4 separate regions of the Homo sapiens genome follow, and all the other regions are linked to region 1. The links come from fine-mapping of genetic effects on gene expression. A gene starts in region 1. Each other region holds a variant in brackets. All regions are shown on one strand. Distances are between the middles of the regions.

Region 1 (5,151 bases):
ATTTTATACATTTTTGAAAAGGAAAATTAACTTAAGGGCATATTTAATGAATATTCAAAAATTTTTTTGCTGATCAAATTATCATTCTGCTTTAAACTTTTGAAATGATCCAAAAAAATTTTAAATGACTTAGATTTACTGTTACAAAATGCTTGTCTTTTGATGTCACAAACATTATATACTATAATCACTGGCCAGAGATAATTGCTATAAGTATAATGAAAAGGGAAATGATGGAAGATCTCTGCAGCTATCCTCATAAATGAGGGTGGGAACACGATGGGCAGTTCCAAAGTTGAAAATAGAGAATATATGTGGATTTATATTAACATAATTGGTATTCTTGGATAGTTAAAAATGGCTAAACTGTAGGAGAAGCCCGAGTAATTACTGTTAACAGAGGAATAAATTTGAGGGCAATAATAATGATGATAGGCCAGGCACTGTGGCTCATGCCTGTAATCCCAGCACTTTGGGAACCCGAGGCGAGCGGACCACCTGAGGTCAGGAGTTCGAGAGCAGCCTGGCCAACATGGTGAAACCTCGTCTCTACTAAAAATAGAAAAATTATCCGAGTGTGGTGGTGCGTGCCTGTAATCCCAGCTACTTGGGAGGCTGAGGCAGGAGAATCACTTGTACCTGGGAGGCGGAGTTGCAGTGAGCCGAAATCGCGCCACTGCGCTCCAGCCTGTGGGCCAGAGCGAGACTCCGCCTCAGAATAATAATAATGATAATAATAATAACGCCACCAACAATACTAAGAGCTAACATTTACTGAGTGCTTACTATGCACCAGATATTGTTCTAAGTATACATTTATTATCTCATTTAACCATCCATAATACTGTGGTATAGACACTTTTATATCCATTTTATAAATAAGTAAACTGAGTTATGGAGAGATTAAACGACTTGCCAGTAAGATTCAAAGCCTGTGTACAAGCTCACGCTTGATTCTGGAGCCAGTGTTCTTAACACAGTATCTTGAGAATGTTAAACTAAAAAGTTTTTAATTTACAGTATTCTTTCCACAATTAAAAAAGAAATTATGAGTAATTATTTTTAGTTCTTTCTTCTCTTCAGGCATTTCCCATGGTTCTTTTCAAGACATAATACATATCATTTAGTGTTGTAGATCTGAAAAAACAAAAGTAGCGTGAAGATCAAAAATTTTCTAAAGAGACGGAGTCTCGCTACGTTCCCTAGGCTGGAACACCCAGGCTTCTCCAGCCTCACACCTCTGAGTAGCTGGAACCACCCTGTCCGCTAAGGTCAATGTTTAATCGTATCTTTGTAGGTCTACTGACCAGTTAAAAAGAGGTGCTGTATACATTGGTTGTTGTCTTGTCAGAGTTTGATGCTTCTATATAGACCATTGTTTTTACATGCTAATACAATTGAAAGCCACTACAGATATTTATATTTACAACCCAAAGCTAGGTTTTAACAAGAAACTCATAAGGCAAAGGTGAGAAGTAAAATAATTTAGCGCCAAGTGGAGATATATGTGCAATGCTACTTTGTTGGGCTCAAAACATATTTTTCTTTTAGAAGACTGACAGGCTTGAAGTTTATGCCTCCAAAGACAAAAGTGATTATGTTTTGTTTAGTAGCTTGCAAAGTTGCCAAAGGCCATTTTTTCTACTCTTTCCCTGAAATTGGTTTATATGCTTATTAAAGTCATTTATACCTATTTGCAAATGCTTAACATAGTTTCAGATTTTAAGATTTCCCTGCAACTTTATTTCCCTTGAAGTTTACAGCAACAGGAGTTCATTTTTATTTTTAATTGCATTTATTCAGTAAGTAAACTCCGCCACAGAAAAACTTAGTAGACAAGGTGAGTTCCCCTGTGCTCCGTGGCAAAGAGTGCGGTGGGTGACATTGACCCATGGTTAGGTAATCTGGTAAGGAAAGACCCCGTTGTAACACATCTGAGCAACGAGACCAAAGGAAGGGCTTGCTGCCACGAGGCGAAGTCTGCTTTTTTGAACAGAGAGCCCAGCAGAGTTGGGCGGCAATCGTGCCCAGCACTGAGGCCGAGGAGAAAGAGAGCAGGAGCATTACATTACTGCACCAAGAGTAGGAAAATATGATGCATGTTTGGGACCAGGCAACCGAAATCCCTTCTCAGCAGCGCCTCCCAAAGCCGGGCACCGCCTTCCTTCGGAGAAGGCGCAGAGTCCCCAGACTCGGGCTGAGCCGCACCCCCATCTCCTTTCTCTTTCCTCCGCCGCTAAACACAGACGAGCACGTGAGCGTCGCAGCCCGTCCCAGCTGTGCCTCAGCTGACCGCCTCCTGATTGGCTGAGAGCGGCGTGGGCTGGGGTGGGGACTTGCCGCCTGCGTCGCTCGCCATTGGATCTCGAGGAACCCGCCTCCACCTCAGGTGAGGCGGGCTTGCGGGAGCGCGCGCCGGCCTGGGCAGGCGAGCGGGCGCGCTCCCGCCCCCTCTCCCCTCCCCGCGCGCCCGAGCGCGCCTCCGCCCTTGCCCGCCCCCTGACGCTGCCTCAGCTCCTCAGTGCACAGTGCTGCCTCGTCTGAGGGGACAGGAGGATCACCCTCTTCGTCGCTTCGGCCAGTGTGTCGGGCTGGGCCCTGACAAGCCACCTGAGGAGAGGCTCGGAGCCGGGCCCGGACCCCGGCGATTGCCGCCCGCTTCTCTCTAGTCTCACGAGGGGTTTCCCGCCTCGCACCCCCACCTCTGGACTTGCCTTTCCTTCTCTTCTCCGCGTGTGGAGGGAGCCAGCGCTTAGGCCGGAGCGAGCCTGGGGGCCGCCCGCCGTGAAGACATCGCGGGGACCGATTCACCATGGAGGGCGCCGGCGGCGCGAACGACAAGAAAAAGTAAGCCCATTCCCTCGGCCCGCCGCCTTCTCCCCCGGCGACCCCGCCCGCCTGCCCGCCCTGGGCTCCTGGGCCGGCCTCGGCGTTAATGGGATTGGGGGGGGCAGCCTTTTTGTTTCTGCTGCTGCTCCCCTCCCCTCTCTTCCCCCAACCTCGCCGGCCGGGCTCCCCCGCTGTCCACGTCGCCATCTTGTCGTGGGGGGTGGGAGACGCCTCGAAAGTGCTTTCAGGGGCCGGGGTCTGAGCCCTGCTTGCCCTCCCCGCCGGCCGTGGGGGCCTCGCGCCGCCCACCTACCCGCCTCAAAAACCCAGCCTGCTCTGTGGCCCCATCCGGAGGGGACTTTACCCAGCCTGAAAACCCCGGGAAGAGAAATGAGCTGCAGCTCGGTAGCCGCGGTTTGCACCCGGAGCTTCCGCTCCTTCCCGCCCCCATCCTCTCCAGTTCCATTGAAAACTCGGCCCTGGGGCGGACCCTGCACGCTGGTCCTGGCTTTCCAGTGGACTTGGGGCCTTGAGTTCCCGACTGAGGGACTCGCGTGGTCGGATGCGATCTTGTCCTGTAGTTGTCCAGCCGTCGCGGGTGTCTTTGCCTTTGTGCATTAGGGATTTGCCGCGATGGCCTTAAGATGCGAACTTTTTAGTTTGCACGTGCAGGTTTTGTTTCGTTTTAATCGCCTTGAAAAACTTGCCTAGACTGAGAGTCAGAGTAATGGGAATTTAGGGAAATGGCAACATTTTAAAGAGAACTTCAGAATTGGATACTTGAGTTCATATCACCTGTCACGAGAACGCAGATATTATAAATGAATATATGCCTCATTCATTCTTCAAATAATGAAAATGTAGGGGCTGGTTAAATTTAGGCAGTTTTAATGATACTGAAAAAAGTATATGATGAGTGAATGAAATGCGGCACTAAAATGTTGCAAAAATTTTCGAACTCTGTCTCATTTTCCTGAAATTGAAGTATATTAAAGGAAAACCGTCAACATATATCTAAAGTAAGTAATCACTCGGTTAGAACTTAATGCAAGTTTTATAAATCACCTTGAAGTTTGAGTCTAAGGGGTACATTAGAGATTAAGAATTGTGAGTTGGACCAGTGGTGTTAAGAGCGGACTCCCCCATCCCCCAACACACACACAATTTTGCCCACTTTGGCATTTTAACTTTTAAGGAAATCACTTAAGGAATTGAAGATTTAGAGTAAGAGTTTTGGTTAGTAGACTGGCTTTGCTGTTAAATCCTTCCACTCTTCTGGCAGAGAGATTAATTTCCCTAATCAGTATCAGCAGAAGATAAACTTGTTTATATTCCTGCTGTTTTGTAGATCCCTTCTCCTGGTCCTTCTTCAATAGAATATTAAATTCTTAGTTTGTATACAGCAGAGAAGGTCACTTATAAAATTCAAAAAGTGAGCAAACAGGTCTAGATTAATTCCAAGAGTTACCAGGAATTAATTGCAGTTTATTTTGCGGAGGTGATTACAGTGCTTTTGATGAAATGATAAAGCTGCTATATTGTAAACCTAAGGCAGATTACCTCTGTGTAGTGCCAGTTTTCTATCCTTATTATATATTGAATCATACTTAATACAATGCATTAAATTATGTACCACTTTTTTTATATACAGTATCGAACTCATTGTTTTGCCATTCATCCGTTCAGAATATCAGAAGCAGTTTTGAAACGAATTAATAAATTAGCTACTGTTCATCAGCCCCAATTCTAAATAAGCTCTTAGATTTTCCTCAGCCCATCTGTTACTTTCAAAATTTTCTCATTTGAAAACTTGGCAACCTTGGATTGGATGGATTCATATTTCTTAGTATAGAAGTTCTTGATATAACTGAAAAATTAAGTTAAACACTTAATAAGTGGTGGTTACTCAGCACTTTTAGATGCTGTTTATAATAGATGACCTTTTCTAACTAATTTACAGTTTTTTGAAAGATAACTGAGAGGTTGAGGGACGGAGATTTTCTTCAAGCAATTTTTTTTTTCATTTTAAATGAGCTCCCAATGTCGGAGTTTGGAAAACAAATTTGTCTTTTTAAAAGAAGGTCTAGGAAACTCAAAACCTGAAGAATTGGAAGAAATCAGAATAGAAAATGGGTATGGTTATGATACTGTAGATTTAACGCAGGACATTTCATGTTGTTCCTAGTTATAGGGGCTGAACTTATTTAATAGCACGTGCATTTTGATTTTTAGATTTTTAAGGGAATGTCAAGAGAGTAATGATTCTGTTTCAGGCTTCAGGCCAGACTCCTTCAGAGTTTTCCAAAACAAATAATTACTGAA
Region 2 (5,151 bases), 200 kb before region 1:
GTTCCTAGGAGACTCAGCAAGGGAAGGGCCTGCCTCTCTGCCTTTGGTTGGAGGGTCTGGAACCTGCCATGGCCCAGAAACCAAGAAGAGTAGGCTGGGAAGGAGGCAGTCATCAAGTCAGTTCTCCCAAGGGGAAAAAAAGAAGACTATTCATTCTTTTGTCCTGGGCTTCTTGGCCGATTGGAAGGCCAGACAGTGCTCATGAATAATTTACTCATGGTGTTGACTTTTTTCCGGAGTCAAGCCCTACAGAAAAGTAAGGGAAACAAAGGGGCATGCATCCCATTGACCAGACATCTTTCAGCATGTTTCATCAACTGTATTAAAGGGAAACTCAGCTGTCATTGACATTTCAACCCCAAACTCCTGAAGCCAGCCAGCACACATTTGATTGGCTGTTTTTGACAAAGTGTGGAATACTGTATCTGAAATATGTTGGGTGAGGAATAGTTTATAGAAGGGCACAGTTTAAATTTCACTTCCTCCTCACCATGTTACCCCTGGGCACACAGCACTTTCCAACACATGCTTTTCGACTCATGAGTCTGACTGCTTTGTGCCTTATGCAGCTGTTGGCATGCTGGGTGCACGGTAATTAGTGTTTACCCTGAAAGCTCCAAATGCTTCCCGTGGTATTTCGCCATCCCATTTTGCAGATGTGGCCCACAGAGGAAGCTTTTGCCCCACAGAGGCTCACTGCCAACTCTGACATGCCGCCTTTTACTCCCATGATTACGTGGCACATGAACTTTTCAACTTTGAGCTGCTGATTTCTCCTCAGATTGAGAGAAAAATGTCTACTTAATTTGACTCTTTTAAAAATTCAGAATTTGGGAAGAGTAGCAATCTCACTCGCAAGATTAAGCCCTGTTAAGCTAGTCTCTGAACATAGTTGGGGGATCTGTGTGAATATACCGATCACCAACATCATCTAGCTCTTGTTTCTCAAGAATCATGAGGGTCCACAGGTGCCTCGCTGACTCCAGATAACTCAGCTGGGCATAGCCTTGCTTGGCAAGTGGTCTCCTCTGTGAGCACCACTTCCTGGTCTAAGAATTCACAAGTGATCCGTTTCCAAATGAATTTGTGTGTTGGGGCCAGGCACAGTGGCCTATGCCTGTAATCCCAGCATTTTGTGAGGCCAAGGTGGGCAGATCTGTTGAGTCTAGGGGTTCAAGACCAGCGTAGGCAACATAAGGAGACCCTGTCTCTATAAAAAATACAAAAATTAGGTGGGCATGGTGTAGTGCACACCTGTGTAGTCCCAGCTACTCGGGAGGCTGAGATGGGAGGATCACTTGAGCACGGGAGGTGTAGGTTGCAGTGAGCCAAAATTGCACCACTGTACTCCAACCTGGGTGACAGAGTGAGACCCTGTCTCAAAAAAACAAAAACAAACAAAAAAAAATGGTGTCTTGGGCCAGTGATGGATTTTACATGCCTGAGTTACTGTGCACTCTCTCTCTCTCCCTGCAGTTCTTCCCCTCTGGAAAACTGTGGCAATCTCTCTCTGATTCCCACCTCCTAGGACCTCTCTTACTCCTCAGTATTTCTTATCAGCAGACTTTGAGTCCCCAGATGTCTTTCATTTGAGCCTGGAGTTTTGGGCTCTTACTGTCACCTCACCTCTATTGGAATTCAGTTCTGTATTTATATTCATTCTACTCATTCTAGTGAGGAAAATCTTTTTAGATAAAGATGAAAGTAAAATTTAACAGCTCTCTTTTCCCTTTGTCATCTGCTGGCATTATTCCTTCTGCTGCAAGAAGTAGGTCTCTTCTCTCTTGATTTGCGTACTGCAGAGACTACTACAAATTGTCATTTGTTGTTTGTATAGTCCTTGTTTATTCAGTACATGCCAGCCATGGGAATGCTCAGTATATTAGTAACTTTCACATCAGACTTTGGCTGTGAGCCCTCACCTGGGACTGATACTGGCTCTTTGAGCTTTTTAGTCATGTGCTTGTCTCTTCTCTTACTTAGCTTGTCATGCCTTGCTGTGCCATGGTGGCCTCATTCAGTGACTGCTCTTCAACTCTCACCAGAAAGTGACCACCATTCCTGACTTCCAAGATCCTTCTTCAAGGATATGATGGAGAGCTCAGAGCTTTCCAGCTTCTTAGAGTAGCTCAGCATTTCCCTCAAATGGGGTCTTCCCTTTTCCCGTAGTGAAACTCATCAGCCACTGTTCTGCACCCTTGCATGGCCTCTGGAGATCTTTTAACAAGTATTTGTTGAGCGTCACCCTTCTGCCAAGGATATGGATGTAATGGTATGAGCAAAAACAAAAATACTCGCCAGTGGAGGGTATGATCCAGTGAGGGAGAAAGATGTCAATCAAATGATTATACCAATAAAAAGTAGCAACCATGACTAGTGCTATGAAGAGGAGAAATACAATGCAGTGAATGAGAACCTAGAATAGGGTGATTCTATCCAGTTAGGGAAAGATGGAAGATTTTTATAAGGAAGTGACTCTTGGGCTGAGGTCACGGTAAAGAGGGAAGGAAGGAACATTTGAGACAGAAGAAACAGCAAACGCAGATAGATGCCCAGTAACAGGAAGGAGTGTGGCAAGGTCAGGGGTTTTTAGAGCAGGCCAGCCTGGCTGGAGTCTAGGAAGCGTATCTTACTTCACTTGGCATTTTATTATCCTACAGTGTTCAGTCAGCTGATGACTTCAAGATTTTATTAAACACTCCTTGTAAATAATTTATTTGAAGGTTAGGTAAGGCCGGTCATGTTGCCAATCCCTGGAGGAGCCATCTATTCACAGTGAGTTCTCTGTGTCCAGGTCTGTGCATTTATACTCAACAATGGGTTTATAAAATATTAGAGCCAGAGGAGACCTCAAACGTTGCTAAGGGCCAAGTTATCTTTTACAGATGAGGGACTTCAGGTGTGAAACGTCCAAAAATTGTTTCTCATAGTGGATATTCTCTTCGGATGACTCATCTGCTGTTTGCTTTCCATCTCCAGGAAAACAAAAATATGGCTAGAAAATTTTGTTTCAGTCTTCAACTTACAGCTGGCATGAAGAGCAAACCAAGACATTTTGAGGCATTCAACCCTGTTTACTCCATTGCAGTGAGAAAAATCCAGTTGAGATCAGAACATATTTCCTGAG[C/T]TGCCACCTAGTGCCGGATGTTGCATTAGGAGGTGTAGATACAAGATGAGTAGATGAGATGTCTGCCCTTTGAGGCGCTTTCTGTGGGGTGAGAGAGATAGCCATTAATAAGTCATGGCAGCTGGGTTCCAAAATTGGAGTTTTCCCAGGGTATCTTGGGAGCAGACAGAATGGCCACTTGCCCTAAGATGGATGTTCAGGCAAACTTCCTGGAGGAGGTGATGCCTGAGCTGAGTGTGAAGAGTTAAAAGCTGAACAAAGATAAGGAGGGTGTTTAGGTAGGGGAGCAAGTTTGAGCAAAGCAGAGAAGTGTGGTGAATGTGTAGTTAAAGTGGAAAATGACAGGAACTTTGGTAGCACTGGAGCCTGAAGTTGGAGGCATGGGAAGAGGGAAGGCTAGAGGAGGCTGCAGAAATGAAGTATTAAGCACTTACTGTTCTTGAGATGTTTGAATTCTGGGTCACTTAGGACTTTGCTCCATTGCCTATCACAGGAAACATAAAAATGACAGTGGCTTAAGCCAGATGGAAACATAGTGCTCTCTCACATGAAAAGCCTGGAGGTAGGTAGTCCAGCCCCGCCATGGAAGCTCCGTGGAGTCATTTGCAACCCAGATTTCTGTGCTTTCTGTTCTGCTGTAGACAGGGTCACGTCCTTGTCTAAATGGTTGCTGAAGATCTAGGAATCATCTCTCTATTCCAATTCCATGTAGTAAGAAGGGCTAGAGGGCATTCCTCCAAACTGAGTCAGCTCCCTTTAAGGGGCCTCCTGGAATTCCACACAGTACTTACCATGGAATTGGCCAGAACTTGATCATATGGCTGAGTCTAGCTCCAGTGAAAGCCAAGAAATACAGTATTACAAGTGGCCATGTTCCAGCTAAAAATCAGCATTCCATTATTAAGAAGGGAAAGAATCATTATTTGATAGAAAACTTGCAGTGTCAGACACAAATTCCATGCCAGGGAGTCTGGGCTTTATGGAGCAGGTAACCTTTGAAGAATTCTCAGCAGGTCTTATGACATGAGTGGATTTATATTTTACTTTTACGTGCGGGTGGGGGGCATGGCATGTGTGGACATACCCATGGTAAGCAGCAGCCAGGTTGCAAGGGAGAGGTTCATTTTGAGGCAGTTGCAGAGTTCCAAGTAACAAGATAATGAGGACCTGAACTAAGACAGTGATGGTAGGGCTGATGAGAAAGGCATAAGAGATAATAGCAAGTAAAGCTGATAGGACTTAGTATTTGGGTGGATTCAGGGTAAAAAAGAAACCGGAAATCATTTCCAGGTGTTTAGCTAGAAGGTTGAGTGGATGGCAGTGCCATTAGCTAGGAGAGATCATGTGCCTAGGAAGAAGTCTAGGCAAAAGAGGAAGAAGTTTTAGAAAGGTTGTATGACAGGTGCCTGAGGTATACTCCAGTGGAGATGCTCCATGGATAGGGGCATAGGAGTCTGAAGCTCAGTAAAGAGGATGGGCTGAATTAAATATTTGGAAGTCATCAGGACATAGCTATTAGTTGAGACCACGAGACTGAATGAGATCACCCAATAGGAGTCTCTTAAATGGAACAGTGTGAGTCAAGGACAGAACCCTGGGGAACCAGACTCCATTAGAAATCTGCCTAAATTTGGCTCCAGGGTTATAGAAACAATTGGTATGTTCATCATTTAGAGTAAGTATCCCCAAAGTGCCAGTGTATTAAAAATATAATTCCATAAAAGTATAGAAAAAGATCACTTACTTTAGAGTATGTGTGTGACGCTACATATATTCTTCCTACTGAAAGAATGCTGGACATGGTTTTCAGAAGCCCTGCATGCTAGACCCAGCCCTGGTCCTGGGGATGTGGGCAGGTTGCTGAATGCCCCTAGCCCTTTGGCCCATCTGTACAGTGGAGGTGCCATTGACACAGCTTCCCAGCAGGGTCCTTGTAAAACTCAAATCAGATGGAAGTGGAAATGCGAATGCTTTTTGGAACATGCCGTGTCAATATAAGAGGTTATCTTTGCATATGTGCTGTC
Region 3 (5,151 bases), 23 kb before region 1:
CCTGTAATCCCAGCCCCAGCTATTCAGGAGGCTGAGGTGAGAGGATCTCTTTAGCCCAGGAATTCGAGGCTGCAGTGAGCCATGATCACACCACTGCACTCCAGCCTAGAGGACAGGATGAGACTGTCTCCAAAAAAGAAAAAAAAAAAATGATACCTAGAGGGGACAGTGCAATCGAAAGCCTCTCTTTAAGATGGGAGCCATCTGAGCCTGTTTGTACGCTAAAGGGGAAAGAATCAGGGTGGAGTTTTGATAATACAGGTGAGAGAGGAGATCAATGATAGTTCTGGGTCCTTGAAGATAGGGAGACAAGAGCAGAGAGCAGAGATAAGCTGCTGGCAGCAGGAGAGACATCTCTTCCTAGAGCGAAAGAGATAAGGATGGGAGCAGATGCAGGTACATTTGTCAAGAGGAATGCAGGAAGTCAAGTGAGTTCTTGTCCAACTGCCTCCAGTTTCTATATGAAATGTTGGAAAGGACAGTTGCTGATAGGAACGGGAAGGGGACAACCCAAACAGCAAGAAAAGAGGACGGAACCACCCGGGTAATAAAATTTCCATATATACCGTGCAAGTTTACCGATTTTCATGGGATTGGAGAACTGTAGGGTAAAATGTAATTAATACTACACTAGACTATATGCAGCATAATTTAATCTTTCTTTAATGTTTTCATTGCCTGTGGATTGTTTTTACAAATATCAATTATAATTACAGTACAATCTGCTTAAAGAAGTGTGAGAGGAAGTGCTAGTTGATAGAAACTTCCGGCTGACAGAGTTCACAACGTTTTGCCAGAAACAGACATCCTTTTATACAATAGGAAAAAAACTGTTTTCTTCTACTGTACTCTCAAAACTCTATTTCTGACACCACATGTAAGGGAAAATGAAAACAGTTTTTCGTCTCTATACTCACACTTTTACAGAACACTTCTGTGACCAAAATGTGTGGGGTTTTCCCCACACCAGCCAATTCTCTGACACCAGCTGGTGTCAGAGAATTTAACTCAATTTAACTCAATTCTGACACTACTTACCTGGAAATAGTGTCAGATCCCATAGGTTAAGGGCTCAGTCTCATAAGACTGCCCCCCACTTCAGATGCCAATCACAAGTAGAGGTCTCCAGATTGCCCACAGCTTCTGTCCAACTTGGCTAAAAATTGGAGGTTCCTTTGACTTCCTCCTCAGGTTCAATAATTGGCAGTAGTGGCTAACAGAACCCAGGAAAACAGTTTACTTACTACTGCCTATTATTTCAAAGGATGTTTTGAAATATACAAATGGAGGCCGGGTGCAGTTGCCAGGCCTGTAATCCCAGCACTTTGGGAGGCTGAGGCTGGCAGATCACTTGAGGCCAGGAGTGACCATCATGAGACCAGCCTGGCCATCATGGCGAAACTCCGTCTCTACTAAAAATACAAAAATTAGCCGGGCATGGTGGTGCACGCCTGTAACCCCAGTGTTAGAAATATCGCTCAAATCCTAAGGAAATTGAACACTCGAACAAAGAATTCCTAGCCAAACAATTTTACTTCTGCGCAGAGGGGTGCCTCCTCGGCCAGTTGCCATGAGAGCACACCTGAACAAAGGGGCACGAGAGCCTTTATTCCTGACGCAAGTCAGTCCTGCCCCTGTACCCTTTCCCCATTGGCCGGGGTCGGGTTGTACAATCTAAACTAATTCCGGTTGGCTAAACATTTGATTTTTTTAGATAAGGTGGGCACGTAAAAGAAAGTGGAGAGGAAGGGGAAGGGGTGTCTGTAATGAGCTAGAAAGTTAGTCCTCTTTCCAAATAAGGAAAGGAATGTGAGCTGGTACTGGTAACGCCTGGTACTGTGGCGTGCCTGGGCATCTAACAAAGGAAAAAAGGAGAAAAAAAGTGGGGGGGGGGGAGGGTACTATGAATTAAAGAATAAAAGATTGATCAGACTATTTGAAGAGAAACCTCATCATATCCCACACCAGCTACTCAGGAGGCTGGGGCACAAGAATCGCTTGAACCCGGGAGGCGGAGGTTGCAGTGAGCTGAGATCATGCCACTGCACTCCAGCCTGGGCGACAGAGTAAGACTCTGTCTCAAAAGAAAAAAAAAAGAAAAAAAAAAATACACACACACACACACACACACGCACACACACAAATGGACAGCCAGATGACAAGACATGTAGGGCAAGGTTCAGAAGGGTCTCAAGCACAGGAGCATCTGTCCCTGTGGACTTTGGGTGTGCCACCCTATCATCATGTGGATGTGTTCACCAACCCTGAAGCTCTCCAAACTCCATAGTTCAGTTTTTCTTTTTTTTTTTTTTTTTTTTTTGAGATAGGGTCTTACTCTGTCACCCAGGCTGGAGTGCAGTGGTGTGATCTTGGCTCACTGTAGCCTCAACCTCCTGGACCAAGTGATCCTTCCACCTCAGCCTCCCAGGTAGCAAGGACTACAGGCGTGCACCACCA[G/C]GCCTAGCTAATTTTCGTATTTTTAGCTAGACCTGGTCTCAAACTCCCGGGCTTAAGGGATCTGCCCACCTTAGCCTCCCACAGTGCTGGGATTGCAGGCACAAGCCACTGCACCTGGCCCGTAGTTTTTACGGAGGCTTCATCACATAAGCGTGATTAATTATTAACTCAATCTCCAGCCCCTGTTTCCTTCCAAAAAGATGGAAGGTGGGGCTGAAAGTTCCAAGTTTCAAATCATGGCTTGGTCTTTCTGGTGGCCAGTCCCCACCCAGGAGCCTGCCGAGTGCCACCTTGTTAGAGCAAAAGATGCTCCTATGACCCAGGAATTCCAAGAGATTAGAAGTTCTGTGTCAGGAACCGGGGTCAATGACCAAATATTAGAACAAAAGATGCATGTAGCACCCCAATGGCTCATGAAATTACAAGGGTTTCAGGACCTCTGTGCCAGGAACAAAAGCAGAGACCGAATATATATATATTTTTATTATGTCACACCTTCCTATGCCTAAAAATTCTCATCTGCAAACCAAAGCACTTATCAATTCTTGTGATTACTGTGTGATGGGGCCTTTAGGGCACCTTTGCGTTGTGCTGGAGGCTCTTGTCTCAGAGCAGTGTTTTTGAGGATGTTTTCTTAAGAAGTATTCAAAGAATTTCCTGAATTAACACAGCTTCCACTTAGGACGCCATACAGTTTCCCTGGGCTAAGAATCCATCGATGTGACTTTCAGTAATCTCCCTCCAAAATACCACAGAATATAATTTAAGTCAGATTGGGTTTAGGTCAGTCTCTTCTATAAATTATATTGTACGAATAATTGTGAGGTAGAAAGTTGAAAAGCTCATTCTATGAGAAGGAATAATGAACCTATAAGCCTTAAATCTAAAAATTAGCAAAAGTGTTTAATGACAACATTGTTTTAAGACTACTATAAGTCTAGGGAGATCCTCTCTCTCTTTTTTTTTAACAGGACTTACACAACGAATACTTTCAGCCATAAGCGACCAAAGCTTTTATTTTTAAAACAAAATAAATGAAATAAACAGAAGAAAGAACAGATAATTTCTGCCCTTTCACCTCCACCTCCTCACCCTATTTTCCCCTAAAATTCCATCAACTTTCTACTTAGTGATAAATACTTACACTTTTCTGCAAATCTCTGCTACTGTACTATAAATATTTGTTGTGCTTGTTCAGGCAAACCACATTTTTTAAAAACAAAAGAGACTTATTAAGACATGATTGAATCAGTAAACATTTATTGGCCAGGTGCGGGGGCTCATGCCTGTAATCCCAACACTTTGGGAGGCTGAGGCAGGCGGATCACCAGGTCAGGAGTTCAAGACCAGCCTGGCCAACACAGTGAAACCCCATCTCTACTAAAAAGACAAAAAAAAAAATTAGCCGGGCGTGGTGTTGCGCTTCTGTAATCTCAACTACTCAGGAGGCTGAGGCAAGAGAATTGCTTGAACCCAGAAGGTGGAAGTTGCAGTGAGCAGAGATCACACCGCTGCACTCCTGCCTGGGTGACATTGTGAGACTCCATCTCAAATAAAACAATAACAACAACAACAAAAATTTATTTTACCTGAAGTTAACAATAATAATGTCATATGCAAAGTTTGCCATTTTTAAATTTTTATTTTACTTTAAGTTCTGGGATATATGTGCAGAACTTGTAGGTTTGTTACATAGGTATACACGTGCCATGGTGGTTTGCTGCACTTATCAACCCGTCATCTAGGTTTTAAGCCCCACATATATTAGGTATTTGTCCTAATGCTCTCCCGTTCCTTTCCCCCCGTCTTCCGACGGGCCCCAGTCTGTGATGTTCCCCTCCCTGTGTTCATGTGTTCTCATTGTTCAATTCCCACTTACGAGTAAGAACATGCGTGTTTGGTTTTCTGTTCTTGTGTTAGTTTGCTGAGGATAATGGTTTCCAGCTTCATCCATGTCCCTGCAAAGGACATGAACTCATTCTTTTTTATGGCTGCACAGTATTCCATGGAGTATATAGGTCACATTTTCTTTATCCAGTCTATCATTGATGGGCATTTCTGTTGGTTCCAAGTCTTTGCTATTGTAAATACTGCTGTAATAAACATAAAAGTTTGCCACTTTAACCACCTGGTTGCAGCTGGTGGTAACCAGGTTACTACGGTTGGTTTGTTGGGGAATTTTTTAATTATTTTCTAGTGTAGTTTCTGCAATTGGCTTTCCTGGAAACATACTTGAAACCCAAAGTTGCATGCCAAAGATTTATTGGAGAGATCTCTAAGGAGATATATTTGCAAAGAGGAAAGGAAGACAATATTGGGCAGAGGGAGAAGCCAGTCCCCGGTGCATTTGCAACTGAGACTTTAGCCAATCCGGCAGGCAGCTCTGGAATGGAGATGGCCCTTCTGAGTTGTCTCAGATTGAGGTAATCTGGCTATGTGTTTGTACCTGCACATGAGCTAGGCTTTGTTTGCAGGTCACCCCATCGCAGTGGAGATAGAGTTTGGCATGGTCGTTTTCTACGGCAAAGGGCAGAGAGAGACACAGCTGCAAGCTATCAGTTAATATTCCCAGCAGCTGGGGTTAGATGAGCCAACCCTGAAGAGATTCTGTGGAGCACCACAGAATTCACCAAAGCCTGCCACCACACCTCACAATTCCACTTGTTTCTTACAAGTTTGCCCCATCTAAGAGTA
Region 4 (5,151 bases), 190 kb before region 1:
TTAAGTTCTGTCAAGCCCCAGCCTCACGCCGTGACCACTCCTTGTCTGTGAAACCCAGTTCTACAGAAGTCACAAAGCCATTGTCTTAGTCTGCTCAGTACTGCTTAGTCTGCTGCCATAATAAATACCACAGACTGGATTCCTTGAACAGAAATGTATTTCTCACAGCTCTGGAGACTGGGAATTCCAAGATCTGGGTGCTGGCCAATTTGGTTCCTCATGAGGGCTCTCTTCCTGGCTTTAAGGTGGCTGCCATCTTGCTGTGTTCTCATGCGGTGAGGGGATGGAGAGAGCACAGGCTTTCTGGTGTCTCTTGTTATAAGGTCACAAATTCCATCATGAGACCTCACCTTTGTGGCCTCACCTAGCCCCAATTATCTCCCAAAGGCCCTACCTCCAAATGCTATCACATTAGAGCTTAGGGCTTCAATATATGAATTCTGGCAGGACACAAAACATTCAGTCCATTACAGCCATTCATTCATACACGTGTTTGGGGTTTTCAGTTACATTAAGCAACATGTTTTGCAGCTACTTGGTTTGATAGTGCCAAATCTACCCGGAAATGATTTCAGCCCTAAGGAAAACAGCTCCTGCTACAGTGGAACACACAGTAGACAGGCACGAGAGAATAACCAAGGATTAGACCGAGGCGTTGTCATGCGTTTGGCTCATTAAGCCATGCATGTTAGGCTTGGAGCTCTATTTTGAGGTGTGTTGAGACCAAATCCTTCTCCTAGATCCCAGTACTTAAGCCTGGCAGGAAAAAAAGCTGAGTACACTGTGGTTTTAGAGTGTACCTTTTGATAAATAGTTTGCAGCATGTCCCTGAAAGGGGAATTTTTTCCTTTGTCTTGCAAATGTCAAATTGTACTTTTCTGTAAACTTTGTAAGTAGAAATGTGAAGTGGTACAAGTGCTCTGTTGCTTTTTGGTGAAAATGCTCACACATGATGAATTTCTCAGTTCAGTTGCAAAGAGAAGTTAGTGAAACCTAACAGGCAAACTACCCCACACCCTGGAGAACAGTGTCCTGGGGGTGTCTGGTTTGCTAGGTGTGTGGCTGGTGCAGCAATGGGAAGGTGGCGCTTTGACTGCCTGGCCCCTCACATCTTGCTCCTCCCTTTTCACTGCTCCTCTGGCCTCCAGAGTAGCCATGTAAGCCTGTGCTTTCACGTACAGAATTGCTGCTCTACCCTGTTCTTGGCATTTGCGTCAAAATTTACTGTGTTCCGCTGACAAAATTCTAGAATCTCAAAGCTGGAATGGAGTTCAAAGTTATATACCCTTCTTCTTTCAAAGCATGAATATCCAACATCTGCCGAGCAGTCATTTTTTTCCGTACTTAAACACCTATAAGCAAAGAGGAACTTATACTTCCTCCACTTTCAGGGATGTACGGCTTTTGGAAATTTCGCCTTTCTGTTGACTCAAACATTGTTTCCCAGTAGCTTCAGTTCACTGGTTCTGGACCACCTATAAGGGGTAGACTTAAAAAAAAAAATACAGCTCTCTTACAAGAAAGCTGTGGAGATATGTGAAGGCAGTCTGGGTCTCCCAATCTAGTTTACCTGTTAACAAAGGAAATACTATTAGCCTGATAGTCGCTCGTTCTGGCTGTTTCTTCAGGATTACTGATTTCTCAGTAATCCATAAACCATCCATGTTATTAGGCATTCTAGATACTTGGATCAATATCCGGTTGACTTGTCACGTTCTTCTCTTACGAAATCAGAACTATCTGAACTAGCAGTTGGCTAACTGAACTGAGTTATGTTATTATAGCTCATGTTACTTCTTTTGGGTAAGACTTGGTCTTTTTTTTTGAGACACGGTCTCCCTCTGTTGCCCAGGCTGGAGTGCAGCGGTGCAGCTCACTGCAGCCTAGAGCTCCTGGGCTCAAACCATCCTCCCACCTCAGCCTCCCAAGTATCTGGGACTACAAGTGTGTACCAGCACACCCAGCTAATTTTTGTAATATTTTTAGAGATGGGGTCTCGCTATGTTGCCCAGGCTGGTCTCAAACTCCTGGGCTCAAGCAACCCTCCCACTGTGGCCTCCTAAAGTGCTGGAATTACAGCTTGAACCACCATGCCCATCCTTGGTCTTTAACTGGATATTGTTGATGCTGACTATAGAGTAGCAAGCACGGTGGAAAGTTAATTGGTGTGGTGATCTCAAAAAAGGATATTTAAATTTTCCTGTTGTAAGGATCTCAGGAATTTAATTCCTGCATCCATTTGAGAGTATAGCTTCAGCCTGTATGTGCACATGAAAATAGAGAAGGTAGTCATAAATCCCAGAACTGAGGATCTCTGTGCACAGCCCACTCTGCAAAGGTGGATATTTTCCTCTCAAATCAATCTGTGACTTGCTCAAGGGTGAATTACCAAAGATGAAACATGGGCTGAGCACGGGGGTGGGATGGGGGAGACAAGAAAATCACCTTTGGGTATGTCAAAATAGAGGTACCTATGGAACTCCTTCAAATGGTCCATCTCAAAGTTGGAAATACCAGGATAATGTTTAAGACTGGCCACAGACTCAGGTTGATTGCATGGAACAGCATGAAAATGAGACAGTATTGGCTTACAGTTAAGAACGAGGCTTTGAAGTCAAACTTAGATTTAAAACTTACCCCCACAATGTACTGTAATTCTGTGATATTGTACCAACTCTTTAATTCTCTAAGCCTCCGTTTCTTAATCTACATGAGGATAACAGTACTATCCATTCCATGGAGTTACAGTGAAAATTAATTCATGTGGCTTGCTTATTCCAGTGTCTGACATCAGCAAATCCTCCATATACATTATCAGTTGTTAAGAAGAAAAGTGATCCAGGGAAGGAAATTAAACAATGAATTTACTTGAAAGACAGATTCCATAAGGAAATTGTTGAATAAATTATGGTTATACCCGTACTGTGGAATATTATGCAACAATTAAAAGAAAGAATACATTAGATCTACATATATTGACCTGGATGGTTTGTCCCTGATAGA[C/T]AAATAAATGAAAAAAAGAGAGATGTGTGCTCATTTTAATCCCATTAAAAAAAAAAGCAGTAGCGAAAGCTACACCAAGAGTCTCGTACGTTTCCTCATTTGTCATGGCTACATAAGGGCTTGCATCTTGAGCTCTTTTTTGTTCATTTCATTTGTTATCCCTCAATTTCTGGCACAGGGCATGGCAATATTTCTTTTTTCTTGTCTTCATTTCTGTTTTATTTCTAGCAACTGAGCCAACATTTGTCTGCAGGAATTCATGGTGGGGAGTAAGTGATGAGAAGATGGGTGGAAACACAGTATCATTTATTGACTAAAGAGCAGTGTCACTTTAATTTAATTTTAAAATGTAAATTAATGCATATACATAAAAAGGACACTTTTAGCTGTTCTAAAATGATTACAGTGAATGCTAAATCCTCTTCATACCCTTGTCCCCAGTCTCTCAATTCCTCTTCCTCAAGACATGTCCTTATATGTCCTTCCAGAAATGGTCTATGCATATGCAAGCTCTGCATTTGAATGTCTCCTGTTGAAAAACAAATGGTGGTATATTATCTACCTGAAGAACAGAGATTTTTTCCTAAGTCTTTAGAGAGATGAAATCTAAATCCTTAAAGAAAGGTAGTAGGTAGGCAATCTTTTCTTTTCTTTTCTTTTCTTTTCTTTTTTTTTTTTTTTTTCCGAGATGGAGTCTCACTCTCACTCAGGCAGGAGTGCAATGGCATGGTCTTCACTCACTGCAACCTCCACCTCCCAGGTTCAAGTGATTCTCCTACCTCAGCCTCTTGAGTAGCTGGGACTATAGCACATGCCACCACACCCGGCTAATTTTTGTATTTTTAGTAGAGACGGGTGTCACTATGTTGGCCAGGCTGGTCGCAAACTCCTGACCTCGTGATCCGCACACCCCAGCCTTCCAAAGTGCTGGGATTACAGACATGAGCCACCATGCCCATTCAATCTTTTCTTTTATCAGAAGGGTCTATGGGTGACAGTTCAAGTCCTGGAAATAATTCTGCTATCTCTTGTTGGAGAAAGTGCTGGTTTTTTCAGATCAGGCAACAGGCTTATAAACGTTTATTGCAGTTACAAGCTACAAAGAAAGATTTCTTTCCAGCACTACTGCTCCAGGTAGAGCAGTTGCACCAGTCATTATTTATAACTGGATTAAAGAGTAGCAGCACATACTTCTACCGTGGTTATAGAGTGCCTTCTGTTGTACAGAGTGGACTGCTTATTCACCAGGGAGTTCTCAAACACCTTTCTCTATGGGCGCTGTCCCAAATAATGTCAAGAGAGAAAAAATTAAAAATGAGCTCCTGCCCTCTAAGAACAGATGGGAGCAGCCCCAAATCTTGCAAATGAAGCAAGAGGGGGTATTCAGTCTTTAATCCAAGCAGCTAGAAGCTTGCCTTTCCCAAGTTCACCGAGTGAGGATTTTAACACTCCTTTGACAAAGAAATGGGGCCGAGCAGCAGAGGAAGGCAGGTGACACTGAGTCATGGAATTCACCCTTTCGAGCCCTTCCTGGGGGATGTGTGGCTCTTGGGTTGGTTCTTGAAGGAAAGGAATGAATGTAAGAGAGGAAGGGAAGCAGGCTTTTTTTTTTTTTTTTTTTTTGACTCCTACACAGAAGGTGGAATTGAGAAAAATATACTGTGGCGGTGAAATCAACTTACAAAACTGAGGAGGAAAATTTTGACAAAAGCAAACCCAAAATCTGATTACTGTGGGGCTGTCCATTTTATTGCTGCACCAAGGAGCAGGGTAGATACTATTTTGGCCTAAAGAACACTGAAATTTTGTTTTCTCATTTGCAAATAGACAGGTTCAAACCCGTCAGAGGCCGTAACTGAGTTTCCCTGTGACTGATTTGTATGTGTGTTAGTGGTTTTTTTTTTTTTTTTCCTGTAAGAATCTGGTTGAGTAATTCAGAAGGTTAAAAAACAACCAAACAGAAATAAGTGAGAAAAGTTAACTGAGGTCTGCCACATATGCCGGGAAGGTGCCCACAGACTGGCAGAATCTGTGCAGTCTTTGTCTGTTTCTGCCTATGCAAATACTAAGCCACGCTCAACAGAGCTTGAGCGTTGTATCTGTTCAACTGCCATTTAAGAAATAGGACTCTGTTCTCAACAGCTTATT

The links. PIP is the estimated chance that this variant, and not a neighbour inherited with it, causes the effect.
Region 2: its variant is the best candidate, but not a certain one, in a credible set for the expression of HIF1A in whole blood (INTERVAL, PIP 0.54).
Region 3: its variant is the best candidate, but not a certain one, in a credible set for the expression of HIF1A in whole blood (INTERVAL, PIP 0.83).
Region 4: its variant is the best candidate, but not a certain one, in a credible set for the expression of HIF1A in whole blood (TOPMed, PIP 0.87).

What each region holds. Positions count from the first base shown.
Region 1 is chr14:61,692,993-61,698,143 of GRCh38, forward strand. HIF1A (hypoxia inducible factor 1 subunit alpha) reads left to right here and starts at 2,521. Exons shown (of 15, transcript NM_001530.4): 1 at 2,521-2,847. The coding sequence starts at 2,813. HIF1A-AS1 (HIF1A antisense RNA 1) reads right to left here and starts at 2,831. Exons shown (of 2, transcript NR_047116.1): 1 at 2,715-2,831. RefSeq lists an enhancer at 1,840-2,209 and silencers at 2,280-2,579, 2,880-2,979.
Region 2 is chr14:61,489,537-61,494,687 of GRCh38, forward strand. All of the region lies in intron 10 of PRKCH (protein kinase C eta), which reads left to right. Among named protein-coding and RNA genes, the nearest start is that of PRKCH-AS2, 53 kb to the right of the region's middle. The variant C/T (reference allele first, on the strand shown) is at 3,128.
Region 3 is chr14:61,670,402-61,675,552 of GRCh38, forward strand. No RefSeq gene overlaps it. Among named protein-coding and RNA genes, the nearest start is that of HIF1A, 23 kb to the right of the region's middle. RefSeq lists an enhancer at 996-1,075. The variant G/C (reference allele first, on the strand shown) is at 2,458.
Region 4 is chr14:61,498,397-61,503,547 of GRCh38, forward strand. All of the region lies in intron 10 of PRKCH (protein kinase C eta), which reads left to right. Among named protein-coding and RNA genes, the nearest start is that of PRKCH-AS2, 45 kb to the right of the region's middle. The variant C/T (reference allele first, on the strand shown) is at 3,004.